Linked DNA regions of Homo sapiens. The protein of the gene in region 3 interacts with the protein of the main gene of each other region in a pairwise test. Each region holds a gene or a part of one and is shown on either strand. Other genes may lie near its edges.

Region 1 (4,124 bases), on a different chromosome or scaffold from region 3:
GGCTCACTGCAACCTCCACCTCCTGGGTTCAAGCAATTCTCCTGCCTCACCCTCCCGAGTAGCTGGGACTACAGGTGCATGCCACCATGCCCAGGTAATTTTTGTATTTTTAGTAGGGACGGGGTTTCACCATGTTGGCCAGGATGGTCTCAATCTCTTGATCTCGTGATCCGCCTGCCTTGGCCTCCAAAATTCTGGGATTACAGGCGTTAGCCACCACGCCCTGCTAGTTTTTGTAATTTTAGTAGAGACAGGGTTTCAGGCTGTTGGCCAGGCTGGTCTCGAACTCCTGACCTCAATCGATCCGCCTGCCTTGGCCTCCCAGAGTGCTGGGATTACAGGCATGAGCCACTGCGCCCGGCCTGTATAGGACTCTTAAAGCAGTGCCTGGCACACGCATGCCCCACAAACATTAGCATGCAAGACTGAAACCTCCTTGCAAGAAGGACTCAGGGGAGTTTTGCAGAAAACACGACAAAGCCAGCCAGACTTAGAATCATCAAGGCAGGACCATCTCCACCTGAATGCCTGGCAAATCTCTAAAATCACGTGGTCTTTCTTCTCATTCTCTCTGCCCCCCCGGGCCTGAACTCAACTCTATTTCAGTGACTGCCCCAGCTTCCCCCGCCCGCCTCCCCTGCCCACTGCCACCTCCACCTTCTCGAGACCCAGCAAGTTTCATTTCTCACTGTCCATGGCTGGGACAAAGTCCACTCCTCACTCTGAAGAGCAGGCGCCTGGCGGGACAAAAACACCCATGGGGTAGGAGGGTTCTGGCTCTGCCACCTGCCGGCTTGTGTGGTCTGTTTCTCAGCCTCAGCTTCCTCATTTATAACACCCACATGAACTGGTACTTAGGATGAATGGGAGTCTGTTTTGAAGCTTTCATGCGAAAATATGGTTAAAAAGTTTAGATCAGTGCCCAGCAAGGAGCAAGAGCTTGATATAATAATATTAGTGTGACAATAAATATTGGCAGACTTTTTCTCTTCCTCTTCCTTTTTAAAAAAATTTTTGATTTTTAATTTCATTTCTTTTTTTTTTTTTTTTTTTTTTTGACACAGAGTCTTGCTGTGTCGCCCAGGCTGGAGTGCAGTGGCGTGGTCTGGGCTCACTGCAACCTCCGCCTCTTGGGTTCAAGTGATTCTCCTGCCTCATCCTCCTGAGTGGCTGGGATTACAGGCATGCACCACCACGCCCCGCTAATTTTTGTATTTTTAGTAGAGACAGGGTTTCGCCATGTTGGTCAGGCTGGTCTCAAACTCCTGACCTCAGGTGATCTGCCTGGGATTACAGGCGTGAGCCACCTGCCCAGCCCCATTTCATTTTTTTTAGAGACAGGGTCTCACTCTGTCACCCAGGCTGGAGTGCAGTAGTGGGATCACGGCTCACTGCAGCCTTGAACTCCCGGGTTCAAGTGATCCTCCCACCTCAGCCTCCCGAGTAGCTGGGACTACAGGTGTGCGGCACCACACCTGGCTAATTTTTGTATTTTTGGTAGAGACAGAGTCTCACCCATGTTACCCAGGATCCTGGGCTCAAGCAATCCACCTGCCTCAGCCTCCCAAAGTGTTGGGATTACAGGCATAAACCACTGCACCCGGCTAACTTTCTTTTTGAATTTTTTTGTAGAGGTGGAGTCTCGCTATGCTGCCCAGGCTTGTCTTGAACTCCTGGGCTCAAGTGATCCTCCCACCTTGTCCTTTTTAAATGTTTTAACCACCTCTCCCACTCTCCTTCCCACACTCTCATGCAGCCTTTCATGCATCGAATATGCATTTATTGAGCACCTACTAGGTCCAGGAACTGTTCAAAGTGCCACTGCATATCAAGGCAGGCACATCTACCCTCACAGAGCTCCCAGTCTGGTTCAGGGAGACCAACAGTAAGCGAGAAAATAACCCAAGATCATTTCAGAGAATGAAAAGTAACGTGAAAGCCATGAGCCGGGGGCTGTGTGGCTCTGAGAGACTGGCTGGGAAGGGGCTACAGGGGACCACGGTGGTCAAGGGAGGCCTTTGGGGACAGGAGGTAACATTGAGCTGAGACCTAAAGGAGCTGAGGGAGGAGGCTGGGTGGAGATCAGGGAGGAAAGCTTCTGGAAGGTGAAGCCACCTGCCCAAAGGCCCTGGGGCAGGACTGCGCCTGGTGAGCTGGAGGAACAGTAAGGAAGCCCATGTGGCTGGATAACCGTTAGGAGGGGGAGAAAGGAAGAAGGTGTGTGGTGGTACAGGGTGTGAGGTTGGGATCCTGGGTGTCAGGGAAGAGTTTGGGGTGTCAGGGAGGAATTTGGGGTGTCTGGGAGGAATCTGGGGTATTCGGGAGGGATCCTGGGTGTTGGGGAAGAATCCAGGGTGTCAGAGAGGGGTCCTGGGTGTCACGGAGGAATTTGGGGTATCAGGGAGGGACCTTGGGTGTCAGGGAGAAATTCAGGGCGTTGAGAGAAATATGGGGTGTGAGGTAGGAAGCTTGGGTGTCAGGAATTTGGGGTGAGAAGGAATATGGGGTTTCAGGTAGGAATCCTGGGTGTTGGGGAGGAATCTGGGGTGTCCGGGAGGAATCTGGGGTTTGGGGGAGGGGTCAGGCTGTCGGGGAGGAAGCCAGGGTGCTGGGGAGGATCCCGACAGTGGGGGAGGATCTGGGCCACCAGCGCGGGGAGCTGGAGGTTGAGGGGAACGTCAACCTCCCAACGCGCGGCGCCAGGCCCCCTCCTCCGCACCGGGGCCCTAAGAGGGAGGCCAGGTGGCCTGGAGCCCTGGCGAGCGGCACGGGCTCAGGGCCACCCCCCACACCCCCGACACCTTCTCCACCTCAGGCCCGTCCTCGCCCCTTCCCCACCTACCAGGGATCCGGGGCTGCCGGCTGCGCCACTGGGTCCTGGGGTCCTGGGGGCTGGGGCTTCTGCGGAGTTGCCCGCGGACCGTAGCGCGCTGAGGGCGCTGGCTCCACCCCGCGGCCCGCGCCCTGGGAAGGAAGCGCGCCGCCCCTTCCGCGTCCCGGGTGGGTGTGGGACGTGAGGTCACGGTTTCGGAGTCCTGCCCCGCAGCACCGGGAAAGTCCCCGGGTCGCCCCGCACCCATGCGCTCTCTTCCCAACCCTTGCGGTCACGTTCAGCAAGTGTGAGCACCTACTGTCTGCAGGGGGCCAGAAGAACTCGCATCTGCTCTCGGGGAGCCCACAGTCATCTGGGCGGGGGTCCCAGATGAGAAAGTAATCACAATTGTAAAGTGGGATCATCTCCGTTAGTGATAGGTGCTTTCCAGGAAATAAATGTAGCAGCTGTTTTTATTTTATTTCTCTTATTTTATTTGTTTGTTTGTTTATTTATTTTTTTATTTATTTTCCGAGACGGAGTTTCGCTCTTGTTGCCCAGGCTGGAGTGCAATGGCGCAATCTCAGCTCACTGCAACCTCCGCCTCCCGGGTCCAAGCAATTCTACTGCCTCAGCTTCCTGAGTAACTGGGATTACAGGCATGTGCCACCACACCTGGCTAATTTTGTATTTTTAGTAGAGATGGAGTTTCTCCACCTTGGTCAGCGTGGTCTCGAACTCCCAACTTCAGGTGATCCACCTGCCTTGGCCTCCCAAAGTGCTGGGATTACAGGTGTGAGCCACCGTGTCCGGCCTCCCTTTTTTTTTTTTTTTTTTTTAGTTGGAGTCTTACTCTGTGGCCTAGGCTGGAGTGCGGTAGTGCGACCTCGGCTCACTGCAACCTCCACCTCATGGGTTCAAGCGATTCTCCTGCCTCAGCCTCCTGAGTAGCTGGGATTACAGGCACGTGCCACCACACCTGGCTAATTTTTGTATTTTTAGTTGAGATGGGGTTTCACCATGTTGGCCAGGCTGGTCTCGAACTCTTGACCTCAGGTGATCTGCCCGCCTCGGCCTCCCAAAGTGCTGGGATTACAGGCGTGAGCCGCTGCGCCCGGCCTAATTTTATGATTATAATAATTATTATTATTTGAAACGGGGTCTCCCTATATTACCCAGGCTGCTTTCAAACTTCCAGGCTCAAGCAATCCTCCCGCCTCGGCCTCTCAAAGTGCTAGGATTACAGGTGTGAGCCACCGCACCTGGCCTATATTATTTTTATCACCACATTAAATAAGATCTAATAATCACA
Region 2 (3,649 bases), on a different chromosome or scaffold from region 3:
CACATGAATATGGAAAAATGGCTGGGTGTGGTGGCTTACACCTGTAATCCTAGCACTTTCAGAGGCCAAGATGGGAAGACAGCTTGAGGCCAGGAGTTCAAGACAAGCTTGGTCAACATAGCGAGACCCACCCCCACATCCCTAAGGAAGAAAAAAAAAGTATTACTGAAAATAAAAATAAGAGAAGTTACGCTTAAAAATACGTATGGAAAAATACTGTGATATTTTGAAAATGCCAAGTTGCAATACAATATAGTATATCCCATTTTTGTTTTTTAAAAAACCTCCCTACATGAGGCCATATTTATACGTGCACTGAGCCTAGAAGGATAAACAAAGCAAATTTATCAATAATGGTTACTGCCTGGGACATTGGGGAAAAGCTTTCATTTCTCTTCAAACACTTGGCTTTTAATTTTGTTTTTTTTTTTTTTTTTAAAGTATGGGCCAGGCGCAGTGGCTCACGCCTGTAATTCTAGCATTTTGGGAGGCTGAGGTGGACAGATGGCCTGAGCTCAGGAGTTTGCGACCAGCCTGGGCAACAAGGCGAAACCCCATCTCTACTAAAATACAAAAAAAAATTAGCCAGGCGTGGCGGGATGCACCTGTACTCCCAGCTACTCAAGAGGCTGAGGCAGGGGAATTGCTTGAACCTGGGAGGTGGAGGTTGCAGTGAGCCGAGATCATGCCACTGCACTCCGGCCTGGGCAACAGAGCAAGACTCCACCTCAAAAAAAAATAAATAAATAAATAAAATAACCTGTATACTTCTGCAATTAACATTTTACCAAAAACAAACAAACAAACAAAAAACCAGAAAATACCACATTATGATTCAGGACACTATCCTCTTCCCAAGGACTTCTGAACACTTGGCCCATTCAGTCCACCGACAGGTCGGTTGGGCAGGCAGGCAGGAGTGATGATGCCCCTCCCAGACAGGCCTGTGCTTTCTGCCCTGGCCTGGAACACAGCTGTTCTTTAAGCTCTGAACCATATGTAAACAACACCTGCCGAAAAAAGTTCTGCAAGACACAAAGGACCCATGGAAAGAGTCCTGGAGATGACCTCCTTTTTCCAGTAGGTCCTGCAGCGATCCATCCCATGGTTCTATACAAAGAGATGATCCTGAAGCGTGTCGGGAAGTTGACGCCGGCTTCCCGGAGGCACAGTCATTCTCTGCCCTCCTCCCTGCTGGCCACTGGCCATACAAGAATGCTTGCATAATGTTCACCATTCAAAGGGCCTCGGCACTCTCTGGAAAGCAGGCTGACCCACAAGTTCTCTTCTGGGACCCATACATTTCTGATTTCCACATAGGAACACATTTTTAATGTTCCAGGGCTCAGCACACTATTTTCAATAGGTGCTTATTTCGAGTCAGCTACATTTTCCAGAATGCCTTCCCTGACTGCCCCACACCCAGACTGAGGTGAGCTTGGTTTCTGCGTGGGCTCCTATAAGACCCCCTTCTCAGACACCTGGCACACAGTGATGAATGGGAAACAACAGAATTCTGCTTCCGGATGCATTTACTCACTCCACTGGGGGAAAGGACCATTCAATACATGAAAACAAAACTATCTACAGGCTGCTGCCCGTCGCTGAATGAATAAATAAAATGTGGTAGATACATGCAAATAAGAGAATATTATTCTGCCTTAAGAATGAAGTTAGTTCTGACACATGCTGCAACATGGATGAACCTTGGAAATACTATGCTAAAAATAAGCCAGACACAAAATGACAAATACTGGATGATCTCACTTACATGAGGTACTTAAGAGTATTCGGTTTCACAGAAAGAAAGTAAAATGGTTGGCAGGGCAAGGTGGCTCAACATTGCCACCATGGGATTACACATGGCTGTAATTCCAGCACTCTGGGAAGCCGAGGCAGGCAAATCGCTTGAGCTCAGGAGTTCGAGACCAGCCTGGCCAACATGGCGAAACTCCGTTTCTCCTAAAAATACAAAAATTAGCCAGACCTGTAATCCCAGCTATTCAGGAGGCTGAGGCAGGAGAATCGCTTGAACCCGGGAGGTAGAGGTGCAGTGAGCCGAGATCGTGCCATTGCACTCCAGCCTGGGAGACATAACGAGACTCTGTCTCAAAAATAATAACAATAATACAAAAATTAGACCAAGCACAGTGGCTCACGCCTGTAATCCCAGCACTTTGGGAAGTCGAGGTGGGCAGATCACCTGAAGTCAGGGGTTCGAGACCAGCCTGGCCAACATGGTGAAACCCCGTCTCCACTAAAAATACAAAAATTAGCTGGGCATGGTGGCAGGCGCTTGTAATCCCAGCTACTCGGGAGGCTGAGGCAGGAGAATCTCTTAAACCCAGGAAGCAGAGGCTGCAGTGAGCCGAGATCGCGCCATTGCACTCCAGCCTGGGCAACATCAAAACTCTGTCTCAATAAAATAAAATAAAATATACAAAAACTAGGCCAGGCACGGTGGCTCATGCCGGTAATCCCAGCACTTTGGGAGGCTGAGGTAAGCAAACCACTTAAGGCCAGGAGTTCGACACCAGACTAGCCAACATGGTGAAACCCCGTCTCTACAAAAAAATACAAAAATTAGCTGGGTGTGGTGGCGTGTGCCTGTAATCCCAGCTACACAAGAGGCTGAGGTTGCAGTGAGCCAAGATCGTGCCACTGCACTCCAGCCTGGGCGACAGTGAGACCCTATCTCAAAAAAAAAAAAAAAAGGAGAAAGAATGGTAAGAATGGTGGCCGCCGCCACTGGATGGGGGAGGGGAGTTGGCATCTAATGGGAACAGAGTTTCAGTTTGGGAAGATGAGAACGTTCTGGAGATGGATGGTGGTGATGGTTGCACAACACTGTGAAAGTGCTTCACGCCACTCAACTGTACACTTAAAAATGGTAAATTTTATGTTATGTATACTTCACCACAATTTTTAAAATTCAAATAAAGAAAAAAACACCTATTTACAAGTTGTGAAAACTGCTATAAAGAGAAACTGTAGGGGGCTCCGAAGAAATCACAGGAGGCTGAGGCAGGAGAATCGCTTGAACCCGAGAGGTAGAGGTTGCAGTGAGCCAAGATCGCGCCATTGCTCTCCAGCCTAGGCAACAAGAGCAAAACTCCGTCTCAAAAAAAAAAAAAAAGAAAGAAAGAAACCACAAGAGGATGAGGCCAAAGTTAGGTGGGGGGCTCTCCAGGGCCTCCTCCCCACCAGACCAGGATCTCCCCAGGAGTCAATGGGGCATCCATGTCCCTAGAAACAAAAACTGTTTAAGACAAAAGGCTTCTCCAGGTTCAAACCAGTAAATGGAGTAAGACCTCAAGCCCCACTCATCAAAGGGCTTAACCAGGACTGAGACCCCCCAGAACCTAGTGGCTCATGAAAGAGGCTGCCTTGCTGGGTGCCGTGGCTCATGCCTGTAATCCCAGCACTTTGATAGGCGGAGGCGGAGGGATCACTTGAGTCCAGGAGTCTGAAACAGCCTGGGTGTCCAGGCACGGTGGCTCACACCTGTCATCCCAGCACTTTGGGAGGCCAAGGCAGGTGGATCACCTGAGGTCAGGATTTCGAGACCAGCCTGGCCAACATGGCAAAACCCCGTCTCTACTAAAAATACAAAAAGTAGCCAGGTGTGGTGGTGCACGCCTGTAATCCC
Region 3 (3,649 bases):
ACACACCCACGATCATGCCTCCTGATCTTCGGTCTTTCTACCTCTGCTGCTGCCTCTCTGGGCAAGCCACCATTATCTCTCCCCTTGTTCAACAACCAGCCTTTCTGTGTATACTTTTCCCCTTTACGATCTATTCAACTCACTGTGACGAGAGCTGTTTTAAAGAGACCGACAATCCAAGCTTTACAAAATTTTTTTAATGCATCCAGACTGTAGATTCTTATTTTCTACCAACCAGGACTCCTTGGGAAAATGACTGACTCCAGGCGTAAAGCAGGAAGTAGTACACAAAGATGGGCCTAGACCATCTCATTATGACAGAAAGAGGGAAACTTTCAAAGCTGCCCAGGCACCATCACCTATGAAGTATTCTTGCTAAAAATGTTTAACCTGCATCTCAATCACACCTCTCCAGACCTAACTTCCAGTATATAGGAAGTTCAGGGGATAAGATACAAGTTCAATGATACTAAGAAGAAACAGATAAATACAGAATGTGAGTATTAAAAAACTAAGAAAAATAAGCCAGGAGTGGTGGCTCACGCCTGTAATCCTAGCTACTTGGGAGGCTGAGGCAGTAGGATAGCTTGAACCTGGGACGCAGAGGCTGCAATGAGCTGAGATGGTGCCACTGCACTCCAGCCTGGGCGACAGAGCAAGAGTCCGTCTCAAACAAACAAAAAAACCCAAACCTAAGCAAAATAAATGTCATGAAGGAACTGCTCCACACTAAAAGCCTGACTACATTAGGTTTTACCTAAAAACCCCTTGTACTACATGACTGGATTAGATCCCGGTTAAGAAAAAACCCAGCTATAAAGACATCCATGGAGTAACTGGGGAAACATGAATATGGCCTGGGCATTTAGTAATTAGATGGAATTACTATTAATGTTCTTAGGTGAAAAAACAGAACTGTGGTTATCCTCATTCTTGGAGACACATGCTGAAGTATTTAGGGGCAAAGTATCATAATTTCTACAACTTACTTTCAAATGCTACAACAAAATAAATGTACAGTGTGCTTGTATAAATACATACATACAAAGAGAGAAAAGGCAAAATGCTATCTGTTAAAGCCAGAGGAGGGTATACAGGTGTTCATTAACTATTCTTTCAACTTTTGTTTGAAGAAACCAATTGCAAAAATACCTATTTGAGACAACTAGGGCAGGGTGCAGTGGCTCACGTCTGTAATCTCAGCACTTTGGGAGGCTGAGGTGGGAGGACCGCTTGAACCCAGGAGTTCAAGACCAGCCTGGGTAACATAGCAAGACTCCATTTCTACAACAAACAAACAACTGAAAAATTGGAATACAACCTAGATATTACATCATAGTATGGAATTATTGCTAATTTTGCTAGCTATGTTATCATGGTTTCTTTTAAAATACTACAGATACATACTGAAGCAGTTGCAGATGGAATGATAGATGTCTAGACTTGCCTTACAACAATGCAGCAGGAGCGGGTGATGTGAAACAAGACTGGCAAAATAAAAACTACAGAAGCTGGAGGAGTGGGAGGTGCAATTCAGAGTTCTCCAATGCTTCATATATAAATTTCAAATTTTCCATAATAAAAAGTCAAAAGACCTAAATAACAAAACCTGAAAAGTCTCCAGTGACTTCTCACTACTCTTCCATTCTTGCTCTGGCCTAATGGTCAGTATATCTGGTCCTTCTCTGCCTTATCTCAAGCCACTCTCCTCCCGTTACCTCTCTATATTAGCTTCTCTACTCTGGAAAACTTTCTCCTGCCCCCAGGCCTTCAGAAACACCCTTTTCTGTTAGATAGATAGGCATTTTCTCGACGGGCACGGTGGCTCAAGACTGTAATCCAAGCACTTTGGAAGGCCGAGGTGGGTGGGTCACCTGAGGTCAGGAGTTCGAGACCAGTCTGCCCAACATGGTGAAACTCTGTCTCTACTAAAATTACAAAAATTAGCCAGGCATGGTGGTGTGCACCTGTGATCCCAGCTACTCAGGAGGCTGAGGCAGGAGAATCGCTTGAACCCGGGAGGTGGAAGTTGCAGTAAGCCGAGATTGTGCCACTACACTCCAGCCTGGGTGACAGAGTGAAAGAAACTCCGTCTCAAAAAAAAAAAAAGAAAGAAAGAAAGGCATTTTCTTCTGCTCACCATCTCTCTGCCTTATTCATTAGGGCTCAGTTCTACAGCATGTCCTTAGGGAAGCTGTTGCCAGCTCTCTAGACTAGTTGTGCTGTGTGCATTTTCTTGTCACAATAGCACGGTTTATTCAATACTCATCTTCTACGCTAGACTGAGTTTCAGGGGGGCAAGGACCATATTTGTCTTTTTTTTGAGACAGAGTCTCTTTCTGTCGCCCAGGCTGGAGTATAGTGGAGTGATCTCTGCTCACTGCAACCCCTGCCTCCTGGGTTCCGGTTTAAGCGATTCTCCTGCCTCAGCCTCCCTAGTAGCTGGGACCACAGGCGTGTGCCATCATGCCTGGCTAATTTTTTTTTACTTTTGTATTTTTAGTAGAGATGGGGTTTCATCACGTTGGCCAGGCTGGTCTTGAACTCCTGACCTCAGGTGATCCACTCGCCTCAGCCTCCCAAAGTGCTGGGATTACAGGTGTAAGCCACCGCGTCTGGCCATTTGTCTTCTTTACAAAGCCTTTCCAATGCTTAGCCCAGTGCCTGGCCTGTTCAGGTGCTAAGTAAGACAAAATTGCCATGTGTGCCATCAACCAAGGTAGTAGGATCTAGGGGTCCCAAGAAGAAATGTGAAAGGTGGCCTCTGATTTCCATTTTTTTTTTTTTTTTTGAGACGGTGTTTTGCTCTTGTTGCCCAGGCTAGAGTGCAACGGTGCGCTTGGCTCACCACAACCTCCGCCTCCCAGGTTCAAGCAATTCTCCTGCCTCAGCCTCCCGAGTAGCTGGGATTACAGGCATGCACCACCAACGCCTAGCTAATTTTTTTGTATTTTTTCAGTAGAGACGGGGTTTCTCCATATTGAGGCTGGTCTCGAACTCCTGACCTCAGGTGATCTGCCCGCCTTGGCCTCCCAAAGTGCTGGGATTACAGGCGTGAGCCACTGTGCCCGGCCTCTGATTTCCCTTTTTGAGATGGAGTCTCCCTGTCGCCCAGGCTGGAGTGGAATAGTGCGATCTCGGCTCACTGCAACCTCTGCCTCCTGGGTTCAAGCGATTCCCATGCCTCAGCCTCCTGGGTAGCTGGGACTACAGGTACGTGCGCCACCACACCATTTTTTTTTTTGAGATGGAGTTTCGCTCTTGTTGCCCAGGCTGGAGTGCAATGGCACAATCTCGGCTCACTGCAACCTCTGCCCCTACTGGGTTCAAGCAATTTTCAAGCAATTTTTCTGCCTCCGCCTCCCGAGTCACTGGGATTATAGGCACCCACCACGCCCAACTAAATTTTGTTATTTTTAGTAGAGACAAGATTTCGCCATGTTGGCCAGGCTGGTCTCGACTCCTGACATCAGGTGATCCACCCACCTCGGCCTCCCAAAGTGCTGGGATTACAGACATGCGCCACAGCGCCCAGCATTTTTGTATTTTTAGTACAGATGGGGTTTCACCATATTGGTCAGGCTGGTCTTGAACTCCTGACCTTGTGATGCGCCCACCTTGGCCTCCCAAAGTGCTGGGATTACAGGCG

The links.
Region 1: the proteins of SRSF4 (region 3) and TICAM1 interact in a two-hybrid assay, tested with the Homo sapiens proteins (one large-scale study listed by BioGRID and IntAct).
Region 2: the proteins of SRSF4 (region 3) and PRRC2B interact in a two-hybrid assay, tested with the Homo sapiens proteins (one large-scale study listed by BioGRID).

What each region holds. Positions count from the first base shown.
Region 1 is NC_000019.10:4,828,772-4,832,895, forward strand, and holds the start of TICAM1 (TIR domain-containing adapter molecule 1), read right to left. Parts: upstream 2,942-4,124; 5' UTR 2,843-2,941; intron 1-2,842.
Region 2 is NC_000009.12:131,400,451-131,404,099, reverse strand, and holds part of PRRC2B (protein PRRC2B), read right to left. Parts: intron 1-3,649.
Region 3 is NC_000001.11:29,150,827-29,154,475, forward strand, and holds part of SRSF4 (serine/arginine-rich splicing factor 4), read right to left. Parts: intron 1-3,649. UniProt on the Homo sapiens protein: Plays a role in alternative splice site selection during pre-mRNA splicing. Represses the splicing of MAPT/Tau exon 10.